4 separate regions of the Homo sapiens genome follow, and all the other regions are linked to region 4. Evidence: fine-mapped expression QTL. A gene starts in region 4. Each other region holds a variant in brackets. All regions are shown on one strand. Distances are between the middles of the regions.

What was found. PIP is the estimated chance that this variant, and not a neighbour inherited with it, causes the effect.
Region 1: its variant is fine-mapped to the expression of ACSM3 in whole blood (INTERVAL, PIP above 0.99). The same link has a PIP of 0.9 or more in nasal epithelium.
Region 2: its variant is fine-mapped to the expression of ACSM3 in T cells (TOPMed, PIP 0.93).
Region 3: its variant is fine-mapped to the expression of ACSM3 in whole blood (TOPMed, PIP above 0.99).

What each region holds. Positions count from the first base shown.
Region 1 is chr16:20,792,460-20,800,818 of GRCh38, reverse strand. ACSM3 (acyl-CoA synthetase medium chain family member 3) reads right to left here. Exons shown (of 14, transcript NM_005622.4): 13 at 4,330-4,449; 14 at 3,238-3,933. The coding sequence ends at 3,847. ERI2 (ERI1 exoribonuclease family member 2) reads left to right here. Exons shown (of 9, transcript NM_001142725.2): 6 at 417-517; 7 at 781-862; 8 at 1,468-1,556; 9 at 1,752-4,479. The coding sequence ends at 3,095. Among named protein-coding and RNA genes, the nearest start is that of ERI2, 9.8 kb to the left of the region's middle. The variant T/C (reference allele first, on the strand shown) is at 4,698.
Region 2 is chr16:20,945,799-20,953,798 of GRCh38, reverse strand. It overlaps DNAH3 (dynein axonemal heavy chain 3), which reads left to right. Exons shown (of 62, transcript NM_001347886.2): 56 at 1,250-1,366; 57 at 5,162-5,316. Among named protein-coding and RNA genes, the nearest start is that of LYRM1, 49 kb to the right of the region's middle. The variant C/T (reference allele first, on the strand shown) is at 3,139.
Region 3 is chr16:20,671,142-20,679,500 of GRCh38, reverse strand. It overlaps ACSM1 (acyl-CoA synthetase medium chain family member 1), which reads left to right. Exons shown (of 14, transcript NM_001318890.3): 5 at 7,830-7,970. It also overlaps a transcript of ACSM3 not described here. Among named protein-coding and RNA genes, the nearest start is that of ACSM1, 22 kb to the left of the region's middle. The variant A/G (reference allele first, on the strand shown) is at 4,190.
Region 4 is chr16:20,758,855-20,767,213 of GRCh38, reverse strand. ACSM3 (acyl-CoA synthetase medium chain family member 3) reads right to left here and starts at 3,200. Exons shown (of 14, transcript NM_005622.4): 1 at 3,089-3,200. RefSeq lists an enhancer at 2,934-3,063.

The DNA of each region.
Region 1 (8,359 bases), 34 kb before region 4:
TATGACTGTGTTAGAGCATTGCTGTTAATAGTCATTAATAGCAATACTGTGTCATTGATAAGATAGCATTGATAGTCATATTTGGTTTCCAGTTACTATAAAATGTTTGGTTTCTCAATAACATTAATATTTTCCTAGAATATAGAAAATATAGTCCTTGTAATTTAACATGTTACTCTTCTTTCTGAAATAAGGTTTTACTGGGTGTTTAAGAAATCATTTTGAAATTTAGTCATCAACCTAACTTGTTAATAGTAAGTTATATAAAGTGAATAATTTTTAGATATTAGCAGAGCAATGAAATCATACTGTTCTATTTTATATGATCTTCTAGCATTCTATTTGTAAATGGTGGCAGCATAAGTAAAAAATGCTGGCATCATTGACTTTGTTCTATTTTAATGTACCTAATGCAGACTGGGACTTGGGGGTTTGCCTGGAGTATGAGTGTAAAAGAAAGCAGCTGTTAAAACCTGTGTTTTTAAATTCTTGGATTGATCTCAGAGCAACTTACAAGGTAATGGTAAAAAATGGGGGCATGTTTACTTTTTTCTATGGAAAAATGATTAACTTTTATCCTACACATGGGCATGGGTTTCTGCAAAGAAGATACTTTCTTTTGTACTGGTCACATAAATGCATTTCTTAAAGTATTTAAAAACAACACACAAAAAATAAGCACATTCTAAATCTAATAGAACTAAAAATTATGAAAAGTGTTTAATACATAGTCTTTAAAATAGTAATCTTCTTTTAAATATATCTTTTTTTATTGGTTAGCTTTTCTATAGGAGAAAACCAAAAGGACTAAGTGGTGCCTTGCAGGAAGTAGGAATAGAATTCTCAGGACGAGAACATTCTGGTTAGTATACATTAAAAATTATGTAAGCCATTTGACTTTTAAAAAATACTTCATATGAATTTCATTTTTTGGTAATGTCATTAGTAAGGGATATCTTCAGCCTAAAAAAAAAAAACTCCTAATCTAAACAATTCACATTGTTTCTAAGACTTTCAAATTACCACTTTCATAAACTATTGTAAGATACACTGCCATCTAGTGGCTTTCTAGTTGCTAAGAAGAATGAAAAGAATGAGCCAAATCAAATGGAGATTAAACAAGTGCTCAAATAATAGAATGGACTAGTGAAAAAACTGAACAAGACTATTAGATTATTCACAAATCCTGGTTCCTGCAGAACGCTGGCCACATTTTGGGGAACTGTCTAATACATTTTCATATCCTCCTCTATAAATGTGGACGAGCTTGTCTTTCACTGGTAATGCTGCCATAGCCTTCCACTTCCAAGACCAGTTTATCATGATTAAAATTAGTAGATGGTCATAAAACTAAAACTGTGTTCCAATTTCTACACAAGTGGTGTTTTTCTTTTTAAGTTATTTCTTTAGTACTAAGGAAATAGTACTAGTACCACTAAATTCAGTGTTTGATATCTGTATCCTCAGGGTTGGACGATTCTCGGAATACTGCCCTTCTTGCTTGGAAAATGATCAGAGATGGTTGTGTAATGAAAATTACAAGGTCGTTGAACAAGGTTAGTAGTGTCTTGCCTTTTTATTCTGTCATCTCAAACTTCATAAACAGTCATACGTTCTTTGAAACGTAGATTTAATGTGTGCAGTCATTTATAAATCAATGACATTTCTCTTTTTTGTCATAAAACTGTATACTGAAGAAATTAACGAATGCACAGTTTCTAAAGCTGTTGCATTTGTCTGTGGAATCATAGGTTCCCACTAAGAAGAATTTCAGCATTCTGGCCAGAAATTTGAATACAATTCAAGTTGAAGAAATGTCTGCCTGTAACATTAGCATCCAGGGTCCCAGCATATATAATAAGGAGCCTAAAAATATAATAAATCCTCATGAAAAAGTTCAAATGAAGTCAATTTGTGCAAATTCTCCTATAAAGGCACAACAGGATCAATTACAAGTAAAAAACAATATAAAAGCAAGTCTTCACAATGTCAAAAGTTCCTTACCTCTTTTTAATACTAAGTCCTCTACTTCTGTGGGGCAGTTGCAGTCTCCTACCTTGAATTCACCTATCTATATGCAAAAGCAAGGAAAAAATGAACATCTTGCATTTAATACCAAATCTAAGGCTTCAACAGTTGGTTCAGAATTGGTACTTGTTTCTACCACCGTTCCAACTGTTCATCATGTTTCTGATTTGGAAATGAGCTCTACTCTGGACTGTTTACCTGTGTTGGCTGATTGGGAGGATGTGGTTTTACTGCCAGCATCTCAGCCTGAGGAAAACGTAGACTGTACAGTTCCCATTAGTGACTCAGACTTAGAGATTTCATTTAATTCTGGAGAAAGATTAATGGTTTTGAAAGAATTGGAAATGTCAAGTCATGAAAACTTTGGAGACATAGAGGAAACTCCTCAAAAATCTGAGACTTCTAAGTCTATTGTGTACAAGAGTCCTCACACTACTATTTATAATGTAAAAGAAGCCAAAGATCCAGGTTCAGATATTTCTGCCTTTAAGTTACCTGAACACAAATCAAGTACCTTCAACAGAGTTAATGCCAATATGTCTCATCCTTTAGTTTTGGGGAAACATCCTCTTCTTTCAGGTGGTACCAAAAGGAATCCATGCAGTCCCCAAGCTTTCCCACCAGCAAAAAAACAACCCTTCACTATTCATGAAGAAAAGCCTACATCATCTGATTGCTCCCCAGTAAGAAGTTCTTCCTGGAGGCGTCTCCCATCTATATTAACTTCTACAGTTAACCTACAAGAGCCATGGAAGAGTGGGAAAATGACACCTCCATTATGCAAGTGTGGTCGGAGATCTAAGAGACTTGTTGTTTCTAATAATGGACCGAACCATGGAAAAGTCTTCTATTGTTGCCCTATCGGGAAATACCAAGAAAACAGAAAATGTTGTGGTTATTTCAAATGGGAACAAACACTTCAAAAGGAAAGAGCCAACAGCATGGTTCCATCTCATTCCACAGGGGGACTCACTTTTAGTTCTCCAGAAACAAGCCATATTTGTGACAGAAATTTAAGTATTTCCACCAAAAATTCTTTGAGACTCAGGCCTTCAATGAGGAATTGATAACCTTTCATGTATGAATCCTAATTGTTCCTTGAATTTCCAAACATGAGTATTCTGATAACATCTTACACTATTTTATTTTTATTTTATATATTAATGTTTACTGCATTTACCATACTTTCTTCAGGAACCACAAGTGTAATCTTTTGTAAACAGTATTTATTAGATTACATATAATAAGCAACAATAGTATATGATCCTTCTTTTATAGTTAGACCTTGAAACAAGTCTAAACTATTTTTAAATTATTTGCAAAAAATGTGACTAATAAAAATCCCTAGTCTATTTTCAGGTAGATTCTTGTACTTTGAGATTATCATAATCTTCTAACTGATATTTTATATTTTTCTAAAAACTTTTATAAGTTCTTTAGTTTTATTTCAGGCTTGAACATTGGTTCTGATTTGTATATCAACATATCAGAAGAATTAGTCAACTAAAGTTTGAAAACCTATGTAGCAGAGATCTGGTTCAGAAACTGCTTCTATACTATACATTTAAAAATTAATCAGCAATTGATGGTATTATTTTTATATTAAGAAATGATAGGAACATTGACACTAATGTGGAGGAATTTGCCAAATATTTTATTTCAAAATTTAGCCTCTGATATCATAACCACAAGATATTTTAAATCAACAGTTTCTAAGCATACTACCACAGTTTTTATGACCTCTCCATCATCTTGTGGTTTCTAGAGATTGACAGATACTATGTTTGTTTTATAGATATGGTAATTAATGAAACAACTTTAAATTGTCTTCCATTCTTTCTTCCTCAGTTCATTTCTTTTTGTCTTCCCACTGATAGTCTTTGGCAGCTCTTGAATAAATTCTACCTGTTGGCATCAAGGGGAAGAAAATTAGCCTGGAAATTTTTATCTTTACATAAAGCCAATTATATAGCAGTTTGATTATGAATTCTAGGTGGAAGAATTAGAATAGTCTTTGGAATGGGTTTTGGGTAACAGCCAAAATAGGGAAAAGGGTATTGTTAGGAAAGTTGTCTTGATATTAAGTATTTACTGTGAGTCCAGTAAGCCAAAGGACCAAACAAAATAGGTTCAGGGTTTCATTTTAATCTCAAAGATTCTGATTCTTACCCATATGTCATCAGTTCAGTTTGGGACATGTGGTGCAGCATGTGTGAAGAAAATATTCATTAAAATGTAAAAATAAACACTTGAAATTGTCCACAACACTGAGCAAATATTCGTTATAATTAGGATGCCTACCTTTCTGGGATATTTGTAAGGTGCTGTAGTTTTTTTAACATGCTCCTGAATCTCCTTTATTAGTTGTTCTTGATCATGTGACTTGTAATCAGGATTTAGAACGACAAAAGCCTTTACTACCTAAAATAAATATTTGAAACACCAGGAAAATGAGTTATGCATTTGTATGTTTTAGTATGTCTTGTTTGCTTGCTCTGAGAATCTACATGCCTGGTGGGGTGGGCCAGTGTGTTTTAATAAAGTTTGATCCCAGCTCTGTGCTCTTAAGCCAGCCACTTCCTGGTCTGTACCTAATACAGGAGAGCTTCTGGGACCCCTGTAACAACCCAGCCTCATCCAGCCTAGCCCTCAGCATGGGGGATTACTTA[T/C]AAACAGTAGTCACGCTGAGTTTGCCATGTCTTTGTTGAAGGGAACAGTTCACAGAGAACATGCAGTCTTTATACAAGGCTGTGAAGATTCCAGCAGCTATTTTTTTGTTGCTCTGATCCATTTCCATGGCCCTGAGGAACAAGAGTGGAAATCATGGTGGCCTTTAACTGGCAGAAGCCAAGAAAGATGTTATTACTTTATGCTTACAAATCCTCTTCTCCAAATTTTATCCTTCCTAGAAATGTTTTTGAAAACTCTGCCTAGTTTTTGGACCTGTAATGGAGAAGACAGAAAGATAGGCCATCCCTCATAGCCCCCTTTAAAAGTAAATTTGGAGTCCTGTCATTTTCTCTCCTAGGGCACTACCAGGACTGCCATTTACTGCCTTCCCTAGAGGCATGAGTCTAGGTGCATCAACTAGTATGTACCTCCAACGCCAGATTACCAGCCCGGAGCTGGCTATGGAATGATGCTTCCCTGTAGGCACAGTTCCAGGAGAGTCCCCTGAAGCTTTTTTATGATTAAGTATCCTGCACTTAGGTGCCTGAAATCTTATTAAATTCAAGGATTCGTTTGTCCAGCTTAAAGATAAGCTGGCAACATTTCCTATCCACTTTGATCTGGGAGTAAAGATTTCATTGAAAAGGAATTATTTGAAACAACAAATTACCAGGACAGCCATTTGGTGAGAAACAAAGACTTGAAGTTATAATTTTTTCACATATTGAAAACTGTTCACCAGTGGGCAGTTTTACATTGTATGAACAATTACCCATTTTTGTCTTTACCCAAAACCCTTGTGGCCAGGCACAGTGGGTCACGCCTGTACTGCCAACATTTGGGAGGCCGAGGTGGGAGGATTGCTTGAGCCCAGGAGTTCGAGAGCAGACTGGGCAACATAGTGAGACTTTGTCTCTAAGAAAAAAAACAACAACAACACTTGAACATTTTTAATTTACATGTGCCATGCGGCAGTTGTGAACCCTTGTGTGTGTGTGTGTCTATGGATATAATTTTGTTCCATTCACTTTTTGACATTTTATAAAATGCATTTGTAGTTATGCTAGCTCTGCTGCATTAACATTTTTACAAATTAAAAAATTATGCTTGTTGTAAGTGAGTCATTCAAAGGTAAATTATTTTAAAAACTGCAATACTGGTTCACATATTGACGATTTCTACAACTTGGATAGTCTCTTTTATCTTTTTAAACTACTGCAGAAAATGTTAAATTAACAAGGAACAACCTAACATGGGTAAGAGTATGAACTCTGAAGTCAGAACAGCTGGGTTCAAGTCACAGTTTGTTGTGTAATGTTGGACAAGTTAGGTAATCTCTTTGTGCCTCAGTTTCCTTCTCTGTAAAAGAGATTATGATGATTAAATGAATTAGCATAGATGTATAATGCCTGGCACATAGTAAGTCATCAAAAACATTAGCTCTTAGTTGTAGTCTTAGAATTACAAGAAGTTTGGGTCTTATTTTTTAACCCAGAATCCATAAGTGGGCTTCAAATCTCTATGAAATTCTATGCAAAATCTTGTATTTTTCTGAGAAAAGTCTATGGCTGTGCCATTCAATATGATAGCTGCTAGCCACGTGTGTCTATTTCAATTTAAATCAATTAAAATTAAATAAGATTAAATACTCTCAGTCACACTAGCCACATTTCAAGTGATTGATAGCCATGCATGGCTATCGCATTGGATGGTGCAAATATAGAACATTTCCATCACTGCATAAGTCTTAACAGTGGCCTATGGTTTTCTTCACATTCTCAAAGAGATATGTGATCCCAAAAATTTAAGAACCTAGTGATCTAGACACATATTCCACAAGTCTTTCACATTCCAATGTTAAAATGGTATTTCAAATCCAAATATTCTTTTTAATCAATTCTGGAACTTGCTACCCAATTACCCTGCCTGGCAGGACCCAGCCTAGAGAAGGACCTAACCCAGGTAGAATAGGCCTGGCAGCAGAAAGGGAGGCATGGAGCACATGGCCGTTTTGTTCATGGATACCTCGTTTGAGATACCCACTCACATCTTCTACTAGGAAATGCTGCAGCCTACCACTGTTGGAAAACTGGCCACACTTTCCCCCTCACTCTGACTAATCCAAGCCCTATGCCAAGCCCCCGGAGCTGTGAGGGGACCACAACCCACTTATAGACCTTTCCTATATTGTACGCTAGGATATCAGGTGGCTGCCAAGCTAACCCTGTTCCGAAAGGCTCAGCTACCATCCTGTCCCTAGTAAGCACCTGTCTAGGTGGGTAAAACTGATGATGACTAATGGTAGGGGAGAAGTACAGGAAGAGCTAAGACTCGTGAAACCTTGCCGATGATGTTCAGAGCAAAGAGACAAGCCAATAATCACTGACTGTTTTCCCTGCCCTCAGCTGCCTGGAATATACCCTTTCACAGTAAATAGCGATTGTCATCCTAGCAACTTGACAAACTACCAATTCCCAGCCACTGGGCTATATCTGGAACAACTTTGGGCCATCCAGGAGGACTTAACAGGGTATCTTCTGGCATCAAAGATCAGTTAGGGGAATCAGTCCTGGGGGGAGATCCACCCTCCACTGTAACATGCACATCTCCTATTTTTACCTTAAACTTTTTTATTTTTATTTTTATTTTTTTGAGGCGGAGTCTTGTTCTGTTAGCCAGGCTGGAGCACAGTGGCACGATCTTGGCTCACTGTAACCTCCCCGTCCCGGGTCCAAGTGATTCTTCTGCCTCAGATTCCCAAGTAGCAGGGATTACAGGCGTGTGCCACCATGCCTGGCTAATTTTTGTATTTTTAGTGGAGACAGGGTTTCACCATGTTGACCAGGCTTGTCTCAAACTCCTGACCTCAGGTGATCCACCCACCTCAGCCTCCCAAAGTGCTAGGATTACAGGTGTGAGCCACTGTGCCTGGCCTGCCTTAAACTTCAGGACCTATTTCATCCCCTGAGATTGGATACCTTCTAACTCTGCCCTGTGCCCTGTGCTTGAAGCCCTATACCTAGGATTTGAGATAAGGAGCTTGAATACATGGTACAGAAAGTTCTGGATTTGTATTGACATCAGTGTCATCTTCAAAACTTGGATTCAGTGTTAGAAGGGATATGGCTTGAAGAAATACTTGTGAGAACTTGTAACTCAGCTAGAGAAACCCTAGGGGCATGTTGTAGACACACAGGCAAAACGCAGGAGGCTGCCTGGCATGGTACTTTTAAGCCAAAATACTGTGTGGTCAGCCCCAATAGGAATGGGCTTTCAGGACACCTGTGTTATTCAGAGTTTATTTCCTGAAATCTCTACTTATTTACCTACCAAGACTGCTTATGGTTACCTCAGTTCCAGCCTCTGGTTCCCACTTCTGACATCTGATGCCAGCCCATTCTCCTTCACTACACCAGGGACCTCGTTGGTTTCCAGACCTTCTGGGTAACAATTTGATCCCATCCAGCTGACTTCTGTCACCCCATCCTGACGTGAGCCTGGGTTACTGGCATTCACACCATCTTTGCCCTAGTCCACCACGGAAGGAATTCAAATTCTTTCTAGTACGTATTTTCAGCCTTATTTTGTTTGTCTGTTAGGATCAGAGCTGCAACTCATAATTCAATCTTATTTTGTAGCAGTTCTTTCTGACTAGCATATT
Region 2 (8,000 bases), 190 kb before region 4:
CACTCCAAACTGGATGACAAAGTAAGACATTGTCTCAAAAAAAAAATTAAAATAAATAAAATAGCCTGACATAGTAGCACAAGCCTGTAGTCCCAGCTACTTGGGAGGCTGAGGTGGGAGGATCACTTGAGCCTGGGAGTTCGAGGCTGCAGTGAAGGGAGATCATACCACTCTAGACTGGGCAAAAGAACGAGATCCAGTCTCTCAAAAAAAAAAAGCCATGCAAATGTTTGGCTTGCAACTAACTGCCAGTCATGCTTCGTTTGCTGGCACACGAATTTTATTATTTTGTTATAATTTGAAAGCGAGTGTTTGGGAGGAAATTAAACTTCTCTATTGAACCTGGGCGCGATGGTTCACACCTGTAATCCCAGCACTTTGGGAGGCCGAGGCAGGCGGATCACTTGCGATCAGGAGTTCAAGACCAGCCTGGCCAACATGGCGAATCCCCGTCTCTACTAAAACTACGTAAACTAGCTGGGCGTGGTGGCACGTGCCTGTAATCCCAGCCACTCAGGAGGCTGAGACAGGAGAATCTCTTGAACCCAGGAGGTGGAGGTTGCAGTCAGCCGAGATCACGACACTGCATTCCAGCTTGTGGGACAGAGCGAGACTCTGTCTCCAAAAAAAAAAAACAACAAACAAAAAAACAAAACAAACAAAAGCAAAACAAACAAAAAACTTCCCTATTGAGCACAGGTTTCCCCATACTCTTTCTTGTATCCTGCACCATGCCTGGTTTACACATGTATGTCACTTGTTCAGCCCCCAATGGGCATTTATCATTACACCCTTGGAAATACGAGTGGTCATTTCTTTAAGGCTGGCCATTCAGTTTTTCCCGTGAGCTCGAGGAGGGGAATTCTCAGAACCAACGTGGCTCTGTTGCCCAGTCGTAGCTCCTGCTGTCTAGCCATGCCGCGGTGTTATTTTTGGAGCTCCGTGCATTACCGCCATATTCCTGCCAGGCTGAATAATTCTCATTCCACAAATCCCAGGACATTAACATCTTCCTTAACAAATGGGGAGGTATATAAGGAAATTGATTTTAGAATGGATGTTTTCTCAGGCAGAATGGCTCCCATGTTGGTGGTAAACGTCCAGGCTAATAGTTGGCCTCGGTGCTTGATATTCATGAGCCTGAAAGAGGCTTTTGATCCATAATGATGCTTAACTCCCTCGGCTTGGTCTTTGAGTGGAAATTAAGAGCTCTCAGCACTGAAGCCTCTCTCTGCTCTCCCACACGCAGGGTGGAATATTCCCTATGAATTCAACGAATCTGACCTGAGGATTAGTATGTGGCAGATCCAGATGTTTCTCAATGACTACAAGGAGGTGCCCTTTGATGCTCTGACCTACCTGACAGGTATTTACGGGAGGAGTTTTTCCACTGTAAACCTCCAGTATCATGTTCCACCCTCCTGCTGTTCTCCTCCCATTTCCATTCACTTATGTACTCCCTCCCTCCCTCACCATAAACATCGAGCTCTTACTAATGCTGGTCATCATGCTAGATATTGTAAGGAAACAAACAAACAAAAAAAATTAAGATAGAATCTTTACCCTTGAGTGACTCACAGTCTCCAAAAGAAGAAAAATATTTTAAAAAATGATACAGGCCAGCGGGGCACAGTGGCTCATGCCTGTAATCTCAGCACTTTGGAAGGCCACGGCAGGTGGATCACCTGAGGTCAAGAGTTTGAGACCAGCCCGACCAACATATTGAAACCCCATCTCTACTAAAAATTAAAAAATTGGCCAGGCGTGGTGGCTCACGCCTGTAAGCCCAGCACTTTGGGAGGCTGAGGCAGGCGGATCACGAGGTCAGGAGATCGAGACCATCCTGGGTAACACGGTGAAAACCTGTCTCTACTAAAAATATAAAAAATTAGCCGGGCATGGTGGCCAGTGCCTGTAGTCCCAGCTACTCCTTGGGAGGCTGAGACAGGAGAATTGCATGAAGTGGGGAGGCAGAGGTTGCAGTGAACTGAAATTGCGCCACTGCATTCTAGCCTGGGTGACAGAGACTCTATCTCAAAAAAAAAAAAAAAAAAAAAAAATACGGGCCAGGCGCAGTGGATCATGCCTGTAATCCCAGCACTTTGGGAGACCGAGGCGATGGATCACTTGAGGCCAGAAGTTTAAGACCGGCTGGGGCAAAATCCCATCTCTACAAAAAATACAAAAATTAGCCAGGCGTGGTGACACATGCCTGTAGTCCTAGCTACTCAGGGGACTAAGGTGGGAGGATTGCTTGAGCCCCGGATGTGGAGGTGCGGTGAGCTCTGATCGTGCCACCCCACTCCAGCCTGGGTGACAGAGCGAGATCCTGTCTCAGAAGAAAAAAAAAAAAAGGTAACATAGTAATAAGTTCAACAAGAGAAACATTTATAAGTAGAAGGGCAGCATAATGATTAAATCTTGGGGTAGGAGGAGGAGATGATCGTGGCAAACTTCTTAAAGGCATAAGAGATGGGTTTTGGGGGTGAGTAGGAGTTTTATGAGTGGAAAAGAATGGACTGGGTGGGGCATAGAGGAAGGAGAACATTCCCAGCAAAGTGATCCTGAGGTAGAAATGGCACTAGCTGTTTTGTATTAAAGCAATCAATCAGCAACCTTTTATTAGTCCACGATATGTACAAGTACATAATATGGAAGAATGTAAATGTGTAAAACTTGATCATAGGCTCTGTGCGGTGGGTCATGTCTGTAATCCCAGCACTTTTGGAGGCCAAGGTGGGAAGATTGCTTGAGCCCAGGAGTCTGAGACCAGTCTGGGCCACATCTCTACAAAGAAATAAAATAAAAATGAGCTGGATATGGTGTTGTGCACCTGTAGCCCCAGGTAATCAGGAGGCTGAGGCAGGAGGATCGCATGAGCACAGGATGTCAAGGCTGTAGTGAGCTATGATCACACCACTGCACTCCAGCCTGGGTGACAGAGCAAGACCCCATCTCTTAAAAAACATACACACATACAACCAAAAAAACGTGACCACTAACTTCAAGGAACGTGCCGTATAGTCCCAGAGACAGGAATAAGAATAGACATGTGCTAAATGAATGGAATATCATGGCTGAAGGTCAAAATGCAGCTTAATTAAAACACCGGGGCATCAAGATCACACCCAATTTCCT[C/T]TTCAGCTCCATATGTTAAGGAGTTTGTTAGAATCCCTTCCCCAGGCACGTGGCAGACACTGTATACCTGTGATTAATGCATTGAGTCTTCATGCTAATTTTATGAGCTCCATGTTAATAACCCCATTTTACAGCTGGGAAGACAGAGGCTTAAAGGAGTGGTTCTAACTGTGGGTGATTTCAGCCCCCAGTGGCTATTTGGCAATGTCTGGAGATGGTTTTGGATGTCATAGTGCGTGCTACTGGCAGTTATAGTAGTGGAGGCTAGGGATGCTACTGAACAGTCTACGATGTACAAGGTGGTCCCCACAACACAGAACTATCCAGTCCAACATGTTAAGAGTGCCAAGGTTGAAAGACTGTTCTTTACAGTGATTAAGTTCAGTGCCAGAAGGTCACATTGACCTTAACTCAGTAGAGTGTTCCCTAAAACAAAGCCCCAAATGACACACACAGTACGCATACAGTGGGTCTCAGTTTGGTGAAAGAACATCTCCAAAGAAGTGCGCCTGGAGCTGGACACAGTGGCTTGCACCCATAGTCCCAGCTACTCAGGAGGCTGATGCCGAAGGATTACTTGGACCCAGGGATTCAAGACCAGCCTGGGCAAAACAGCAAGATCCCGTCTCTAAAACTAGTAATAATAATAAATAGAAGTGAACCATATTCCCACAGTTCCAGGTCATGCAGAAGCACATCCTAGGGTTCCTCTTCAGACCATAGCATGAGTGCATGATTGCCCTGGGATATGGTCTGCTTAGAGAACTGCCTGCAAGCCATAAACCAACTGCCTGCCGGTCATAAACCAGCCAGCTTGAGAGTAGTTACCTTCCAACTGTTCCAGTCAGGATAGGCTAGTTAGGCTGAGATAACAAACAATCCTCAAACCTCAAGGGTATAAAAGACATCATAGATCCATTTCTTGCCCACTCTACATTTCCAGCATGAATTAGCAAGAGTCTTTGCTCGTTGTAATTCTCTATCAGGGGCACAGTTAGCAAAGGCTCCAACCACTGTTACTGCCACCATCTCAACATATACACTAGTCCCTCTTTATCCACCAGGGATATGTTCCAAGACCCCCAGTGGATGCCTGAAACTGCGGATTTTACCGAACCCCATATATACTATTTTTTATCCTATACATACATACCTATGATAAAGTTTAATTTATAAATTAGGCACAGCGAGAGATTAACAACAACAGTAATAAAATAGAACAATTACAATATGCTATAATAAAAGTTATATGAATGTGGTCTCTCCCTCGCTCTTTAAATGTCTTTTTTTTTGTTTCTGTTTTTATTTATATTTATTTATTTATTTATTTTTTGAGACGAAGTTTCGCTCTTGTTGCCCAGGCTGGAGTGCAGGTCTTTTTTTTTTTTTTTTTTTTTGAGACAGTCTCCCTCTGTCACCCAGAGGAAGGTTTACAGTACTCTTGTAGCTCTGCGGTCCAGACAGCTCAAGTATTAACCGCCCAGTGGTGGGTCAGCGTGACAGACTTTGGCACTTGCACTCATGGCACCCAAGCTCTTGTCCAGTGTCCAGGAGGAATGGGGTCGCACAAACGAATGGAAGATGGTAAATGTGGGGGATTTTATTGCCGAAGAAAGTGGCTCTCAGCGGGAAAGGGAGCTGAAAAGGCTGTTCCCCTGAAGTCAAGCCTCTTCTCTCTGATGTCCAGCTGCTTCTCTCTCTCTGCTGGCTGAGCCTGGGGTTTTGATGGGCATGGGTTGTGGGGGTGGGGCAGGTCATGGGTGGTTTTGGAAAAGGCAACATTCAAGTGGGAAAACAGGGATGTAAGTTCTCACTTTGGGCCATGGTTTCAGGCTTTTCAGCTTGAGGGTGGGGCCCTTGCAGGGGACCCGCCATCTTCTGCCCGGAATTTTCCTGCTTGCTGTCCCTATCACTATGTCCCAGCAGAGATCTTTGGCCGGAAGAATGCCGTGTTTTACATCAACCACCAAGCTCGTGATGACCTTCCCTGGGCTCAACCTCTCCTTCTGTTGGTTGTCCCCAGGGGAATGTAATTACGGAGGCAGAGTGACTGATGACAAAGACCGGCGTCTCCTGCTGTCACTTCTGTCCATGTTCTACTGTAAGGAAATTGAGGAGGACTATTACTCCCTCGCTCCTGGAGACACTTACTACATCCCTCCTCATGGCTCCTACCAGGTAAGGGGTGGGCAGGGAGGCCTACCTCTTTCCCCCACAGGGCTCCGTCATCTCTATATGGCTACAGGGCTGCAGTGTAGCCAGGGATCCCAGGGGTGACCTTGGGCTTCCTGAATTGAATCCATAAGCTATTCCCAATATTCCCAAAAGCCTGCAAGAGAGACATGGCTACTGTTTAAGGAGGGGGTCGGTATTTGGTAGACAAGGTGTTTCAAAATATAGGATCCATCTGGGTGGAGGAAGGAGAGAGAACGATGATTAAGATGGAGCCTTGGAAGTGAGCAAGATGGAAATTGCTACTTGAAGACGAAGATTCAGAAGGTGGCAAAAAGGGAGGAACAGAAAAACTGGGCAGGGAATGACAAAAGGAAGATGAAAACAATCTGAGGGATAGAAAAGAGCTTACAGGTTGGATGCTGTGGCTCACGCCTGTAATCTCAGCACTTTGGGAGGCTGAGGCGGGTGGATCACTTAAGCTCAGGAGTTTGAGACCAGCCTGACCAACATGGTGAAACCCCATCTCTTCTAAAAATATAAAAATTAACCAGGTGTGGTGGCGCCTGCCTGTAATCCCAACTACTTGGGAGGCTGAGGCAGGGGAATTGCTTGAACTGGGAGGTGGAGGTTGTGGTGAGCTGAGACCATGCCACTGCACTCCAGCCTGAGTGACAGTGAAACTGTCTCAAAAAAACAAACAAACAAACAAAAAAAACCACTTACTTTTATTGATGACCTGTGGAACAGAAAAACTCTGAAATTGTATTTTTCTACTACTGTCTCACCACAACCACCACCACCATCAATACAGAAGAAGACTTCTGTGACCAAATGTGTGGAGGTTACCCCTTCCCCACACATTAAGCAGTGGACACCAACTGGGTGTCCTCTAATTCAATTCCAATACCATCTACCTGGTGATAGTGTCAGATCCCACGGGTTGAGGGCTCAGTCCCCAATTCTTTCCCCCAACCCAGACACCAGTCACAAGTCCCAGCCTCAAGAACTGACCAACCAGCTTCACGTTGGGGTTCTCACCACTCCCCCTTTAATTGAAATTAATTCAATTAATTTGCTGGAGCAGCTCACAGAACTCAGAGAAATACTTAGGTTTATTGGTTTATTAAAGGAATATTACAAAAGATATAGATGAAGAGATGCATAGGGTGAAGTATGGCGGAAGGAGTGAGAACTTCCATGCCCTCCCTGGGTGAAATACCCTCCAGGAACCTCCACGTGGTCAGCTATCCAGAAGCTCCCCGCACCCAGTCTTCTTGGGTTTTTATGAAAGCTGTATGACATTCCCCAGAGTATAGGGCAGCACCCTCTCTCTCTAGGTGGAGTCTTAAGACTCACAATCAGGTCAGGTGCAGTGGCTCATGCCTGTAATCCCAGCACTTTGGGAGGCTGAGGCTGGTGGATGGCTTGGGGTCAGGAGTTTGAGACCAGCCTGGCCAATGTGGTGAAATTCTGTCTCTACTAAAAATACAAAAATTAGCCGGGTGTGATGGCATGCACTTGTAGTCCCAACTACTCAGGAGGCGGAGGTGGGAAGATCGCTTGAGCCCAGGAGGCATAGGTTGCAGTGAACCAAGGTCCCACCACTGCACTCCAGCCTGGGCCACAGAGTGACCCTGTCTCAAAAAAAAAAAAAAAAAAAAAAAAAGGACTCACAATCAGAAAGGCAGGGGAAGATTTGAGTCTTGCTTGGGGGCAGGTAAAAGGAGGGAAAGAGAAGGTCAGAGAGATTCTGTTTCCTGCGGCCTGCCCCTAAGGCCTAACACACCCAACATTATAACAGGTGACTGTAACAAGGGCTAGGGGAGTTAGAAGCCAGGAACCATGGATGAAAACCAGTAGATATATATGTATATTACACCACAACCTGTCACATGCCAAGGCCTGATTCCTTCTGTGGATGAAAAGAGTCTCTTTCTTACCCTGTAAAATATTTGAAGAGATTTATACTGAGCCAAATATGAGTGACCATGGCCCGTGACACAGCCCTCAGGAGATCCTGAGAGCATGTGCCCCAGGTGGTCAGGGCTTGATTTTATACATTTTAGGGAGACGCGAGGCATCAGTCAAATACATTTAGGATATCCATTGGTTCAGTCCAGAAAGACGGGAAAACTCGAAGTGGAGGCCAGCAGGTTATAGGTAGATTTAAACGTTTTCTGATTGGCAATTGGTTGAAAGAGTTATCAATAGAAAGGAATGCCTGGGTTATGATAAGAGGTTGTGCAGACCCAAGTTTTATCATGCAGATGAAACCTCCAGGCAGCAGGCTTCAGAGAGAATAGATTGTAAATGTTTCTTATCAGACTTAAGGTCTGTGTTGATGGTAATGCTGGAGGGGCATAATGAGGCATGTCTGACCCCCACTTCCCGTCATGGCCTGAACCAGGCTTTCAGGTTAAATTTTAGAGTGCCCCGGACAAGGAGGAAGTCCATTCAGATGGTTGGAGGGTCTTAAGATTTTACTTTTGGTTTATACTTCATAACTACACTTGTTTTTCTATTTACAGATAAGGAAACTGGGGTTTCAGATGACAAGTTCAAGGGTACATAGTTTTATTATCGGAAGGGGGTCCAGATCCAGACCCAAAGGGATGGTTCTTGGATCTTGCACAAGAAAGAATTCGGGGCGAGTCTATAGAGTACAACAAAAGCAAGTTAATTAAGAA
Region 3 (8,359 bases), 88 kb after region 4:
TGTAACAACAGAACAATTATAACTAGGCTTATAAATTTTATCTACATTTACTTATCTAGAGATGGTCCTCTTAGCTTCGGCTGTGTGTAGACTAGTCAGCTTCCAGGATGTGACTAGAGCAGAGCTTGCAAGATCTTCAAGCTTCAGCCATGTGTAGACTGACCAGCCTCCAGTGTGGTCAGAGCAGGGCAGTTGTCCTTCTTACTGGTGGTTGGGATTCGCCGTAGGTCTATTCGGGTGGGGCAATCAGGGTCTTGTTGGTTAATCCACTGGTCATAGTCGGGAGTCACTGCTGCTGCTAGTTTCAGCCAGCTATGGTGAATCCAAGGTGTGACACCTGCAACTTTAACAGCAGTAGAAGTAGACATGATTACAATATGAGGCCTATCCTGTATGGGTCCTAGAGTGGTTGGATTCCATTTTTTAACTTAAAGAAAATCCTTAGGTTTGAAAGGGTGTACTGGGTCTGTTAGACTTATAGGCATTTTTCTATACCTAGCCATGCATTTTTGCATGGCCATACTTAAAGTCTGCATTTGCCTTCTTAAAGTTACTTCTTCTAGTCTACAGATGATGGGGGGTGGCCGGCTGAACAAAATCTCAGAGGGGGAATACCCAGTTTGCTTGGTGGAGGTGCACCTGACTTGGAGGAGGACCATGGGCAAGACCTGATCCTACCTTTGATGAGTTTCTTGACACAATTTCTTCAGCAGTTGTTTTAGTGTCTGGTTCATGCTCTTCGCTTTACCTGAGCTCTGCAGTCTGTAGGCTATATGTTATTTCCATTTTATTTTTAATAGTCAAGTTAAGTCCTGAACTATTTCAGCCACAAATGTTGGTCCATTGTGAGATCTTAGAGTTAGAGGCAGTCCAAATCTGGGAATAATGTCTTTTAACAACACTTTGGTCACCTCTAGTTCCTTCTCTGTCCCGGTGAGGAAGGCCTTGACTTATCCTGAAAAGGTGAACACCAACATGTACTGATAGCCCCCATCACAGGGTAATTCGGTGAAGTTCATAAGCAGTTTTTCACATGGCATGGCTTCTGTTTCCTGAACTCCTGGGGGTGGAGTAAGCCCTTGTCATGGATTGTTCTGAACACAAGTTAAATATTGTTCATTTACAAATGGCTTGAGTAATAGCAGTGAGCCATGGCACATAGAAATGATGCCTTAATAATGTCTTTAGTGCTGTTTTTTTGTGTGTTTTTTTTTCAGGTCAGTTCCTTGGTGGAACTGTTTTACAAATCTGGGGGCCACCGTTTCAGGGATGGCTAGCCTCCCACTGGAAAATTTTTACTATCCTTCTTCAATGTAGTTGATATTTTTCTGGGCAAAACAAGCCCTTTCATTTGGAGTGTAGCTTGGGATCTACAGAAGGGGAATCTCTGGGAGGAGAGGCATAGCTAAGGCTTCTTCTTTAGAAGGTGGGGTTGTCCTGCTTTGCCTCTTTGTCTCATTTATTTATTTATTTATTTATTTATTTATTTTAGCCTTTAGTATTCTTCCTTTATGGTGCCCCTTGCAGTGCATCTCTGCCACATCTTTTAAGGCCTATACAGCATTTAAGAGCTGTAGAATTTCTTCCTTGTACTTTATTTCTTTACTTTCAGCAGTTAAAAGCCTTTTTTTTCTTTGTAAATAGCCTCATGAACATGGAAAGTGTCAGAAGCATATTTGGAATCTGTGTAAATATTTGTCTTTTGGTCTTTTGCTAGCCAGAGAGCTCTTGTCAGAGCTATTAGCTCTGCTTTCTAAGCAGAAGTTTCTGTAGGCAAAGACTGCACCTCTACTACTGAGTCCAAAGTCACCACTGCATACCCAGCTCAGCAGATTCCCTTTCGTATGAAACTGCTTCCATCAGTAAAATATTCTATGTCTGGCTCCCCAAGGGGCCTATCTGTCAAATCTCTCTGGCTTGAGAACACTTCATCTATCACATTTACACAGCAATGAAGGGGGTCTCCTGGTACTGACTTGATGAGGAGCAAGGTAGCCGGGTTTAGGGTATTCACAGTCTCTAAAGTTAGTTTGTTAGCTTATTGAGCCAGTAGGGCAGTGGCAGCTATTGCTTTAAAACAAGGAGGCCAGTGAAGTGCCACAGAATCTAATTGCCTGGATAAGTATGTCACTGGGTGATGCCATGACCTTATGGCTTGAGTTAGAACCTTCATGGCCTCCCTTTCACTTATGGGCATACAAGAAGATAAGCTTAGTTAGTTAGATCTGGCAGTCCTAAAGCTGGGGCCTGAGTCAAGGCTTTTTTTTTTTTTTTAATTTCTTTAAAAGTCTTCTCCTGGTTAGCCTCCTAGAGGAGGGGCTCTTTCTTTCCTTCTCTTTGTGGCTTAGCCATAAGCTAGAAATTTGGGATCTAAATGCAGCAGAACCTTGCTGCCCTTAGGAACTCTCTTATTTGACACCAGGTGGTTGGAGTAGGAAGTGCACAAACAGATTGCTTTTGTTTACTACTAAGCCATCTTTCCTCTTGGCTTATATAAAGGCTTAAATACTGGAGACTTTTAGAGCAGATTTGAGCTTTTTTCTGACACTTTATGTCCTGCCTTTCACAGCAGGTGCAGGGAGTCTTGGGTTTCTCCTGGGTGCAGTAGCCCTTGGCTGGAGGGTTTTTTTTTATACCATGGCCTTGACCATTCTCCTTATTTTATTTATTTATTTTTTGGGGCATTTATTCTTCTAGTGTCATTTCCTTTTGCACCGTGCACATTAATCTCTCTCTAGCCTTGGCCAGCTTTCAAACTCCTGTCCAAACCAGCCTTTTCCATGACTGTGTTCACGCCCACGACCATGCCTCCTTGCAAAGCCAGCTTCTCTTCCCATAAGGGCTGCTGCTAGTAAATTAGCCTTTGTTAAGCCTCTGATCAGCTTTCTTCTCTGCCTCCTGAACTCAGTTAATGTACACCTTGTAACCACTTTAATAAGCTGAGTTGCATTCACACCTACGGAGCTTCTAACTTCTGCAATTTGTGCCTGATATCTCCTTGGGCCTGCCTTACAAATGCTGTGTCCACCATGCACTGATTTTCAGCAGCCTTAGGGTTAAACAGAGTGTACAACCAAAATGCCTCAAAAAGTCTTTCTTAAAACTGGCTGGTGCTTTTATCTGCACCCTGGAGCACCTCTGAGATTTTTTATATTGGTTGCCTTTTTCTTTTACCAGCCTTTAGCCTTTGCAGAAGGGCTTCTTGGCACTTTTGTAGGTGCTGAAGCTGGACTGCATCATCTGGGTCCTAGTGGGTGTCCTCTTGTCCTCTTAAGAGGCATAAGCATAACTTGGGCGTGACCAGACCTGAGACACCCTCCCTGACTTTTCCAGCCTTTCACTTTAACTTCCTGGAGCTCTAATTTCTCCTTCTCAGGTGAGACTGGGAGCCTGTATCTCTTTGAACTTAATTCCTTAGGGGCAGTTAGCCTTGGTAAAGGGAGGTAGATTGGAATGTAGGGAGGAGGGGTCTCTATTCCCTCCTGTGGTTCTTGCAAAACTGGTTTTCTCTTTCCTGAGACTTTTCTTTTGTCTCCGTAGTTGCCAGGGCAGCTGATTTTTACTTTTACTTTTGGCTTTCACTTTTCACTTTTGGTGCTACAAGCCTCTGTGACTTTACCTTTAACTCCGTAGCCGCCAGCGCAGCTGGTTTCTCTGGGTGTGAGCTGTGAACGTTCTACAATAAACTGCTAGGCAGGGCTGCATTCATTTAGCCATGAATCAATATAAAGACTAGGTCTGAATGCCCTGGCTGTCTTCCAGGGCTAGTCACTACCTTAAAACACACAGCCAATTTACCTATAGTGCCATTGGTCAGCCATCCATCACTAAAAGAGGGCTATTCTAATTCACAGTATGTCCTTAACTTTTGAACATCCAGTTTCATCCCATAATCAGCTCTAAATCCTTTTTAAAAATTCTTTATCATGCACTCCAAAAGGAGTTGGTTTCCATGCTTTTCCTCCCATTTCCTCCCTTGAGGTGCACTTTCACTCTAAGGTCCACCAGACTGGGTCCTATTACAGGAGTTTCAGACGCTGCTTAGCCAGGAACGTGCCTTTCCCTGCCACAGACTGCTGCAGCTGTGAAGCTCAACCTATCAGCCATATGCAACATCCTAGGACTGATTTCCCCCACACTCGCCTGGGAGCACACAGCCTGCGCTAAGGGATCTGTGCCTCCCCACATT[A/G]CTCCCCGCATTGGCCTCTCCTGAGACCGTCTCTTTCACACACTTTCACACACCTCCCTTGCCTCAGGACTCCTCATCGGACAAAACAACCCTCTCTCGTGTCCCGGGTGAGCCTAGTTAGATTCCCACATTCACACACATACACACACCACTTCTACCCCAGGACTCTTCATCAGAGGAAACGAACCTCTCTGGTGTCCTGGGTAGGTCCGCACACACCCACACACTCCCAGTTGGGGTGGCAAGCCACTCTTACCATTCTGCCAGCAAACTCTTCCTTGCTGCACTTGCCGCTGTATCGGCCCATTTTCTCCACCAGTGAACCACTTTCACTTTGTTAGGGGGACACGAGGTTCATCCAAATTGGCGGGCCACTCCTGCCACCCCCAGCCACTCTGGGTTGGATGAGTGGTTGGTCCCTGGGAGGTGATCAAGCTCACCTTCATCCCTATGGGATGGGCTTTCCTACCTTGGGCCCTTTCTCCTTACCGCGGTTCCTGAAGTGCTGGTGTCATCCTGCAGCCCCATCTCAGGTTCAGTTGCACTGCTGGGCAGGATGCGGGGAGAGCCAGTCTCCATCCGGGTGAAACTCCCCCATGGCATGCCTTGGATGCCAGGTCTTCCACAGCCCCAGGGCCCTAGTCCCATGGGCAAAGGAGACAGTAAATCTGTTATCTCCAATCCCCATATGGGCCACCAGAAATGTTTGGGGATGATTTAGGAATCAGAGAGACCGATGGGGTTGAGGAGGATATATGTATTATTTAGGTGCACCAGCCAACCCAGTCAGATTAATATCCAAAGGACTGAGCCCAGAACAAAGAGTCAGGTTACCTTTTAAGCATTTTGGGGGTGGAGAGGGGGGAGGGAGAGATCTGTTCAGGGGGAAGCATATTACAGAAGTGAGAAACAAAGACAGTTATTCAATTGAGACATGCATTACATCATTTCTTACTTTTCAAGGAAAAACATGTTTTGCAACTTGGGTTTATCTGTCTAGTGACCTTGCAGCTGCACAGCTAGAGAAACAGGGTCTTCACAATGCCTGGGAAAGGGAGAGATAAGGCTCACTAGCCACAGACAGAGAAACAGGCAGTTAATTTTTAAAGGACTCCACCTCTTTCTCTTCCTCTGGGGCAACTGGGTTTTCTTACATACAACTGAGTTTTTGCTTACACATTCTTTAATTTCTTTTAATTCCTGTTCCACAGGTAGAAGAATGCCATTCACTCCCAAGTGGTGAGAGACAAGCAGCCAGTGGTAGGAAGGTCATCAAGTCAGTTGTCAGAAACCTCACTTATGTCACTGTTTTGCTATGTGACCCTGACCTAGTTCCTTGCCCTCTCTTGATCTCAGTTGCTTTATCTGTAAAATTTCACATTTTTCAGCAAGTCAACCTTCCATGTTCCTCTCATTAAAATATACTCACCCCTGGGACTGTGCAAAGGAGATTTGTAAAGTCAGGGGGTTATTGTGTTACATATTCCTTGTAGGTGGGAAACCTAAAGTCTTATTTTTCTATTAAAAATATATGAAGTAGTTGAATGAAAGGTTAAAATGAATTTTTAAGGTAAAACTTAAGACCCCAAGAAAAATGGAATTGCCAACTATGGCTTATAGGTAGCTTTGGGAGCAAACTCTTTCCATCTCCCAGGGACTGGGTGCCTTCAGAGACACCTGGGGGCAAAGTGAAGGAAGGCTGGAGATAAGAAAGGCCCCTTCTGCCTCCAAAACTCTGATTCTGTAAGCCTTCAGTCATGTCTCACATTATACACACAAACCATGCTGGGTTTGTTTTCTTGGAGTAATACTTGAGTTTTTAAAGCTCTTTATTTCAACCCCAAAAGGCAAACATTACAGCAAAGTCACATCTTATGCTGTAGTCTAATGTCAGAGAATTTAATTAAAACAGAGTACTCTTGAAAAATCCCTCGAATTTCCCAAAGTCAGTATGATACCATTTCACAGCAAGACCAGCAGACCTAGTGTTTCCTCTCGTGTTGGGATTATTTGCAGTTGCTTTGAACACCATAGAAGCCTTGCATTTACAATTGTAGTAGGCCCAAGGCCCTCTCAGTCCAGGGGAAGCTCCTGAGAAACAAGAGAGACTGAGGGAACCACAGATCTTATCTGCCATCTCAAGCTCATGCTAGGGCAGAGGTACATTGATCGCAGTAATTTTATATATAATATATATATAATATGCAAATTTATATATAAGTATAATTTATATATAAGTATATATATCATATAATTATATGTATATATGACATGTAAGTGTATATAATATATGACATATAAGTATATATTTTATATATTTATGTATAATTTTATATATAAATTTTATATATGAGATATAATATATAAATGTTTTTATATATTTATATGTAATATGTTTTATATATATTTATATTTATTATATATTATATATATTTATATTTATATATTATATATTACATATATTATATATTTATATTTTTATATATTATATAATATATATTATATATTATACATATTTTGTACATAATTTATATATAAGCATAATTTATATATAAGCATAAATATTATATATAACTTACATATACTTACATATACATGTATATGTATATATATACTTATATATAAATTATATACAATATATACTATATGATATATATTATATATACTTATATATAAATTATATATCCTATAATTATATTTATATATGACATGTAAGTATATATTATATATGACATAAAAGTATATATTTTATATATTTATATATAATTTTATATATAAATTTAATATATGATATATAATATATAAATATGTTTTTTATATATATATATATATATATATATTTTTTTTTTTTTTTTTTTTTTTTGAGATGGAGTTTTGCTCTGTCACCCAGGCTGGAGTGTAGTGGTTTGATCTCGGCTCACTGCAAGCTCAGCCTCCCAGGTTCACAACTAATCTCCTGGCTCAGCCTCCCGAGTAGCTGGGAGTATAAGCGCCCACCAGCATGCCCAACTAAATATATTTTTTTTACTCTCCCCCTTTCTCTCTTTCTCTTCCCCACCCCTCATCACCAAGGTCACAGAGTTTAATTTTAAAAAACAAGCTTAGCAGTCTGGTTAAGGGCACAGACTAGGATGCCGACTGAGTTTGAATCCTGGCTCTGCCATTTGCTAGCTGTATATTACCAAGCAAATTACCTAACCTCTCTGAGTCTCAGTTTCCTTACCTGCAAAATGGGCATGATTAGAGTAGTACTCATCTCCTAGGGTTGCTCTGAGTACTGAATGGTTCATATTTGTAACTCATTGAGAGCATTGCCTGGAACATAGCAAGTGCTATTCAAATGTTCATTAGATTACTTAATGAATTCATTAAATTACTTAAGATTCATTACTTAAATTACTTAAGATTAAATGACTTAAGATTCATTGTATTTTACTAATTTTTCAAATAAAAAAATGCTGGTCCACATGTCCGAATCACCCATCAAGTCAGTGTGATGCCTAACTCCGGGAGAGCCAGTTTTCCTCTAGTGTTGCAAACTCCCAGTTTCCTGTCCGTGCCTTATGTTTCTTTTGCATTCCCAGAAGATGAAGAAACAGCAATCATGACTTTTTTCCTTTTGTCTTGAACCCCTTTGCAGATCAGCATCCCCAGAACACACCTGTGTTAAGTCAAAGACCTTGGACCCAATGGTCATCTTCTTCACCAGTGGGACCACAGGCTTCCCCAAGATGGCAAAACACTCCCATGGGTTGGCCTTACAACCCTCCTTCCCAGGAAGGTAGGAAAGAGGGCACCGACATAGAGGCTGGACCCAGATGTGGGCAAAGTTTGTGTGTGTGTGTGTGTGTGTGTGTGTGTGTGTGTGTGTCTTGGGAAAGGAACTGGAAGTAGAAGTGACTACATACTCCTTTTCCCTTCCACTCTCTTTTGTTCAGACCTCTCAGGGTCTGAGAGGTGAAGGCTGGGAATCCTAAATGTTTGCTGACAGAGGCCTGAGAGTGACAAAGGAGGCACATTTAGGTTTTACCAGAGCATCTTCATAGGAGATGTGGAGGAAATGTGGGTAGAGACAGTAGACATTCCAGATGCCACACACATGACAAGCCTGACAGTGGTTCCATAATTTTGTAGGGAAAGACAGAATATTCTAGCAGGGTGACCTGAGAT
Region 4 (8,359 bases):
AAGTCACAACCTATGCTTTTGGCTGCTCTCCTCTTAACAGAATTAGCATCAGGTTTCCTTCAACTGAAAGAAGTTAAGTAATCAACACTACTTGTCTCTCTCTGTTTTTAATTTTTTTTCGCATAATATCTTCAAATGGCTCAAAAAAACTGTAAAAGGTACAGAGGGAAAAAAAAATATCTGCCTCCCACCTCTAGTCTCAAAGCTGCCCACTTTGCTCTCACTCCCAGGAAACCACTATTATTATTTCTACTTATCTTTTCAGGGTTTCTTTATGTGCATTCAAGCAAATTATGAGTATAGATTCTTATTTCTCCACCAATTTTACACAACAGGTAGCACAGAATACACACTATTCTGCCCACTAAAAACATTTTTAACAATGTACCTTTTAAGGGCTTTCCATACCAGTGCGCAGAGATCTTCATTCTATTTTTTTAAATGAAGTATTTATTCATTTATTCTTTCCTTTTTTTCCCTGCCTAAAGACAGGATGGATCTCACTCTGTCACCCAGACTGGAGTGTAGTGGCACGACCACCCCTCACTGCAGCTTGAACTTCTGGGATGAAGCGATCCTCCTGCCTCAGCCTCCAGAGTACCTGGAATTACAGGTGTGTGCCACCACACCCAGCTAAGTGTTTTAAAAAATTTTTTAGAGATGGGGGTCTCACTATGTTGCCCAGGCTGGTCTCAAACTCCTGACCTCAAGCAATCCTCCTGTGCTAAGCACTTTGCAGTTATTTATTATTATTTCCATTTTACAGACAAGGAAATATACACAAACACGCACACGGCCTCCCAAAGCACTAGGATTACAGGTGGGAGCCACCACACTCAGCCCTGTTCTGATTTTTTTCTTTTAACAGTTGTATGACATTCTAGTGAAGAACTGCACTGTCATTTCTTAAACCGGTCCCCTATCAATGGTCACTTGAGTTTTTGTATAATTTTGCAATTTAGATAAAATGTTGAAACTATGTCTTCCAAAAGGAACGTCCTGATTCTTTCATTACTTGGATGTAAAAATGAATAGTATTTTTAAGTGGTTGTGAAGTATTAGAAACAATTTCTGATTCTATTAAATAAAAGGCAGGAATTTGGACAAATATCTTAAGGTCTTGAGCTTCATTCTTGGTAGGTTGGCATGATTCATTTATTTATTCAACAATTATTAATCACTTGCCATGAATTATTTCAGACATAGAGGATACAGGAGGGAATGCAAGAGACAAGGTCCTCCTTGCTCTCATAGAAAGACACATATAGTAAACAAGGGAATAAATAAATGTGATGTTACGCAAGAAAACAAAGAGAGTAATGGGAGAAAAGGGACCTTTTAGGAGGTCTCTCTAGGGACGTAACATTTTTGCTGAGATCTGGCAAGTGGTTGTACTGTTAAGCATTTTGCAGTTATTTATTAGTATTTTCATTTTACAGACAAGGAAGTATACACAAACAGACACACATATTTAAATTGGACAACGCATTTATTCATTACCCGTGTATTTATTGAACACTTGGTATATGCCAGACCTGTACTAAATGCTGAAAATATAGCTGTGAACAAGACACGGCTGGTCTTGCTCCCATGAAGCTTATAGACTATTAAGGAAGACATTAAATAATTATGTAAATATTAATATGATTGGAGATAAATATATCATACTTAGCTTGCTGATTCTGAATAGAATCAGAGTTTAGTATGATTTGTTCCCTAGCTCCCATACAATACTCTACACCACATTCAGAATCCTTCAAACGTATGTTGAAAAGAAAATTGATCAGTCATTTGGAGCTTAAAATGAACCTAACCATTCTGTTCTACCAAAAAGCAAATATCGACATCCTCTTCATCAAAACCATAAGATTACCTTCTCCTCAACAAAGTTCTTTTCCTCCCTTTTCATCGATCTTAGCATTTTACAACTTCTATTTCCCAGGTTTATAAAATTATTTGTAGGTAAAATTGCTGAGATAACTTTCCCAGGGTGACTCCAGATTTTTATACTGAGCCACAGAAACATTGGTAAGGAAAACTCTTCTAAGAAAGACAGTACCACCCCTGGTCAGATAGGCTTCTGAAAGTATTTAAGGTCTCATCTGAAATGCAAGCTCTTTGTCCCTACAGCCAAGGGGGCTTTAGCCTCCCCACAGCTCCCTAAACATCCCTCCCTCTAAGTATCCAAGTAATAACAGTAGTTTAACATATACAGCCTCAACGCAAGGTAAATTCACTGCTGTTGTCTCCAAACCCAACCAGACCCTGCCTGAAGCCCCTCCTATACAGAACTTTTGCAGCTGCCCTTGACCACCTAAAGGAGAAAACTGGCTGCTCTTAGGTTTGCATCTGTGTTTCCCAAAGTTTCCTGGAAGTAATTTACATACTTTCTGGATGATGCAGAAGATGGATTCCCATCTGTCACTGAGCAAGGTGGGGAGCTAAGCAGACAGTACAATGAAAATCTCAGCCACTACCTGGTCTTTTTTTTGAGATGGAGTCTTGTTCTGTCACCCAGGCTGGAGTGCAGTGATGCAATCTCAGCTTACTGCAAACTCCACCTCCCAGGTTCAAGTGACTCTACTGCCTCAGGCTCCCAAGTAGCTGGGGTTACAGGCACCTGCCACCACACCTGGCTAATTTTTTATTTTCAGTAGAGATAGGGTTTCACCATGTTGGCCAAGCTGGTCTCGAACTCCTGGCCTCAAGTGATCTGCATCTGCCCACCATAGCCTCCTAAAGTGGTGGGATTACAGGCTTGAGCCACCGCATCTGGTTCAATTAAAATTAAAAAAAAAATTTATCAACTTAATACATGTACATAGTTTTTCAAAAAATCAAATAGCACCAAAAGGCTCAACATGAAAACTCAGCTGCTACATTTATAGCCTTTTGTGTGTGCATACTCCTCATCACTTAATAGATAGTATCACACAACTGAGAAATTCTGAGAGAAACTTTGGCTGCCCAAGACTTTAATGACAGCATTTTTGATTGTTGGTTTTGTTCATCTGTTTGTTATCTTTGCTCAAAAAACAGATGTGCCAGTTCAGGAAATCTTACACAGGAGGGGAGATGAGGTACTCACTAGTTAACAGATTCCAACACAGATGGAGATTATGGCAGACTTGTTTCTTAGAAGAGCAGCCCTGAACCTTGAGTTCTCACATCTGCTTTTTCCTCGTGGCAGTCTAAAGAAGAGGGAGGAGCAGTCTGACAATCCGGAGGAGCAAGACTGGCCCAAAACACTTTCCTTGATTGGTGGAGACATTCTGGAGGAGGAGCCAAGCTCTGGGCTAAAGTTTACAGGACTCCCAGCGGTTCCTCTTACAGGTAATGATTTACAGAAACAGCAAGCTTTTGAGGGGCGGAGAAAGCAAATTATTAACAAGAAGGAAAGTGTCCAAGGAGTTGCCGAAGTGGTTAGTTCTGTAAAGGGGCAGAGAGAGCACTTCTCAGAAGGAAGAACAGATGGAGGAAGCCATAGAGGAGTTTTGAAATTGAAAGGAAAGAAGTTGAGGGGCGGTTATGGGTTGGCCTAAATCTCATCAAGCCCATTGGTGCGTTTATCTGTCGAAGTGGCAGGACTAAACATAAACGCTATCAGGTTACTCCCCTGCTCAAATCTTTCAGTGCTTCTTTTTCCACTCCAGGTAAAATCCGAGTCCTTACATGAACTGCAAGGAGTTGTATGATCTGGCACAGGGTCCTCTGATCCACAGCCCATTCTCCTTCCTCTGCCTCACTCTGCACAGCCACCGGCCTCCTTGCTTTTTCTCAAACACACTTGCCTGTTTCAGCCTCAGGCTTTCTGAATTCACAGTTTCCACTGACTGGAACTCTTTCCTCAGATATCCCCCTGGCCAAATTCCTCATTTTCTGAGGTGTCTTATTAAATAACTCTTCCCTTACCTCATTTTCTAAAGTAGCACTCTTCATTTTTTCTCTTTTACCATTTTTTAACTTTTTACATCTCTTACTATCACCCTTGAGGGTAAGAACTCTTTTTGTTTGATGGTGTATCTATTGCCTGGAATAGCTACTGGCAAATTTTAGGCATTCAATAAATAGTTGATGGATATGTGAATAAATAAAGGACTCTTTCAATTACATGTGAGAGACCCAACTTTACTTAAAGAGGAATTTGTTGGTCACTTTTGAGTTCTAGGAGTCTTTTGTTGTTGATTCCTTGGGATTTTCTGTGTAATCACATTACCTGTAAATAAGTAAACAGATCTTACTTCTTTCTTTCAGATCTATATGCGTTTTATTTCCTTTTCTTGCCTTATTGCGCAGGCTAGAGTGTCTAGCTCTACGTTGAATAAGAGTGATGAGAGCAGACATCCTTGCCTTGCTTTTGATCTTAGAGGGAAAACATTCAGTCTTTCATGGTTAGGTACAATATTAGTAGTAGGTTTTGTGTAGATGCCCTTTATCAAGTTGAGGAAATTCTCCTCTATTTCTATTTTTTTCTGAGTGTTTTTATCATGAATAGGTGTTGAATTTTGGCAAGTGTTTTTTCTGCATCAGTTACTATAAGCATGTGGTGTTTTTCTTCTTTAGCCTGTTAATAAGATAGATTACACTGATCTTCTAATATTGAACCAGCCTTGCCTCCCTGGAATAAACCTTGCTTGGTCCTGTTGTATATTTCTTTTTCTGTATTGCTGAATTCTATAGTTATGTCTCTTGACAAATTTGAGAACTTTTCAGCTATTATTTCTTGGAGTAAATTTTTAGCCCCCATGTTAGATCTTTTATGATAGTTTCACAGGTCCCTGAGGCTCTGTTCTTTTTTTTCTTTTTTTTCCCATTCTAGTTTCTTTCTTTTGTTCAGGTTGAGTAAATTCTGGCTTCCAGTTCTTTGATTTTTTTCTTCTATTATTTCTATTCTGATGTTAAGCTCATTATTAGAGACAGGGAAAAAACAGTGTTTTTTTTTCTACTCTCACATACCATTCAGCATAATGTTAGCAGTGGTGAATCCATACGGATCTACAATAACTTGATTCTTGCCTCTTCAAAGGAAAGAATTCATCCAAGAGGCATAAGGCAGAGTGAGAGACTGAGGCAAGTTTTTGAGCAGGAGTGAGAGTTTATTAGAAAGTTTTAGAGCAGGAACCAAAGGAAGAGGGGCAAGCAGGCAACTTGAGAGATCCAGGTGCCCTGTTTGACTTTTGACTTTGCGTTTTATACATTGGCATGCTTCCGAGGTTTTGTATCTCCTTTGATTTTTTCCTTGGCATGGGCTGTCTGCACGTGCAGTGGCCTGTCAGCACTTGGGAGGGGCCACATGTGCAATGTCTTTACTGAAGTTGTGCACATTCTCATTTGAGGCGTTTTTCCCTTACCAGTCAAGTGTTCCTAGAGGAAGGTTGTATACCAGTTAAAATCTGCCATTTTGCCTCTTAGTACGCATGCTTGAGCACACTTGCCCAGTTCCTGAGATCTTATTGGAAAGCTGCTGATCACCAGCTTTAGGTGTTTTCTATCTCTTAGGAGACTGCCTTTCCCTGGCACCTACTGCAACCAATTATTTTAGAGTGACAGTTTAATAACCGCCTGACCATCACCTGATTGTCGCCTGACATTCCTGCCTTTCCTGCCTTGCCCATATCTGCCTGACTACCTACTCTAACAATAACACTTCTGACACTAGACGTGTGGGGGGTTTTCACTATACCAAGCAATTCTCCAGTGGACACCAGCTTGGGTGTCATGTCCTACTTAGTTCAACACTGTCTACCTGGAAATAGTGTCAGATCCTACAGGTTAAGGTCTCAATCTGTAAACTAAAAAGTATCTGAGACAGGTCTCAATTAATTTAGAGGTTTATTTTGCCATGGTTAAGGATCATGACCCATGACACAGCTTTAGGAGGTCCTGAGAACATGTGCCCAAGGTGATTGGGTTACAGTTTGATTTGATACATTTTAGGGACAAAGAAGTTATAGGCAAAGACATAAATCAATACATGCTGAGGAGGCTGAGGCAGAAAAATTGCTCAAACCTGGGAGGTGGAGGTTGCAGTGAGCTGAGATCATGCCACTGCACTCCAGCCTGGGCACTCCAGCCTGGGCGACAGAGTGAGACTCCGTCTCAAAAAAAAAAAAATGTGTATACATTGGTTCAGCCTGGAAAGTTGGGACATCTCAAAGGAGGAAGAGGCTGGGCTTTCAGGTAATAGGTGGATTTAAAGATCTCCTGATTGGCAATTGGTTGAAAGGGCTAAACTCTGGCTGAAGAATTGAAATCAGCTTGAGTTAAGGTAAAGGGTGGGGGGTTGCGGAAGCCAAGGTTCTTTTCAAGTAGATGAAGCCTCCAGGTAGCAGGCCTCAAAGAGAACACTTGTGAATGTCTCTTATTAGACGTTAAAAGGTATCACACTCTCTGGAAATACATAGTAAAGATGAAGAAGGAATTAATGAAATCAACTATAACCTAATAGTAGTGGTAACAGAAATTTTTAAATCCTCTTAAAGTTGCTGCAACTTTAACTTGAGTTATACTTAAGTTAAAAGAGAATATTAACAGCCTGTCTTCTCTCTGTGGTCAGTGGACCTTATCTATATTCCCCAACTCCACATTCATCAAAGTTTATTACAGGCTCAGTGAGTTCCTGCTTACCTCCCTAGCATGGCTTCAGGGTCACAAGACCGATAAGTTTAGGTTGGAAGACATGTTTTTCTCAAGATGTAAGAAATGTTGTAATGCTTGATTAACTGCCTTTGTTTCTCTCTTCCGTAACTTACTTCCTGCCTCACATGGTTCCTGCCTTAAGATGTTTAAAAGTAGGAAAGCCTTTAGTTTGGGGCTCAGACTTTCTGGATGTATGTCTGGCTGAGCCTGTGATCACCTTAATAAACTCTCCTGAACCTTTTTCAGTCTCTCCAGTCTTTGATTGTCCCGCAACAAAGGAAGGAGATTTTCCTACAGAATGCAGCTTTTCCCCACAAGAGACAGCTTTGCAGGGCCATTTCAAAATGTGTCAAAGAAATATATTTTGGGGTAAAAGACTTTGATTTTCTTCAGGGCCTGCTATCTGTTATATGATGCTGTACTAGAGTCATTTTAGAATTTGGATCTTATTGCTACAAAGAGTCTGTTTTGTCAGTTTTAAGATCACTGTTTCAATGTTAATGTTGGTCAGTTGTGCTTGAACTCCAAAAGGGAAGAGTATAATGAGGCATGTCTGTCCCCGCCACCCCCTGTAGCTGCCCCTACTGGCTTTCCATCATGGCCTAATTTTTCAGATTTCCTTGGGTCCTCTTGGTCAAAAGGAGGGTCAATTCAGTCAGTTTGGGGGCTTAGAATTTTATTTTTGATTTACAAGTCCCACAAGACTGCCCCCCACTTCAAGTGTCATAAGATTCAAGGTTGTAATCTGTACTTCTAACCCCTCTCCTTGAGTTCAATTAATTTGCTAGAACTATTCATAGAACAAAGGGCAACACTTACATCAACCCATTTATTATAAAGGATATTACAAAGGATACAGATGAACAGCCAGATTAAAGAGATGCATAGGGCGAGGTGTGGGAGAAGGGGTACAGAGCTTCCATGTCCTCACCAGATGTTCTACCCTCCTAGAACTTCCTCATGCTCATCTACCCAGAAGCTCCCTGAACCCAGCCCTTTTTTTTTTTTTTTTTTTGAGATGGAGTCTTGCTGTGTCACCCAGGCTGGAGTGCAGTGGCGTGATCTCGGCTCACTGCAAGCTCCACCTCCCAGGTTTACACCATTCTCCTGCCTCAGCCTCCTGAGTAGCTGGGACTACAGGTGCCCACCACCACACTTGGCTAATTTTTTTGTATTTTTAGTAGAGACGGGGTTTCACCGTGTGTTAGCCAAGATGGTCTCGATCTCCTGACCTCATGATCCGCCCACCTCAGCCTCCCAAAGTGCTGGGATTACAGGCGTGAGCCACCACACCCAGCCCCTTTTGGGTTTCTTAGAGGCTTCATTACACAGGCCTGACTGATTAAATCATTGGTCATTGGTAATTAACTCAACCTTCAGCCCTTCTTTCCTCCCAAGAGGTAGGGGGATGGGAAGTGGCGTGGTGGTGGGGTGGGAGAGAAAGTTCTAACCCTCTAATCACAAGGTTGGTTCTCCTGGCAACCAGCCCTCATCCTGAACCCCTAACCCCTAGTCATCTCACTAGCATACAAAAAAGCTCTCTTCAGCAAATGTAAAAGAACAGAAATTATAACAAACTGTCTCTCAGACCACAGTGCAATCAAACTAGAACTCAGGATTAAGAAACTCACTCAAAACCGCTCAACTACATGGAAACTGAACAACCTGCTCCTGAATGACTACTGGGTACATAATGAAATGAAGGCAGAAATAAAGATGT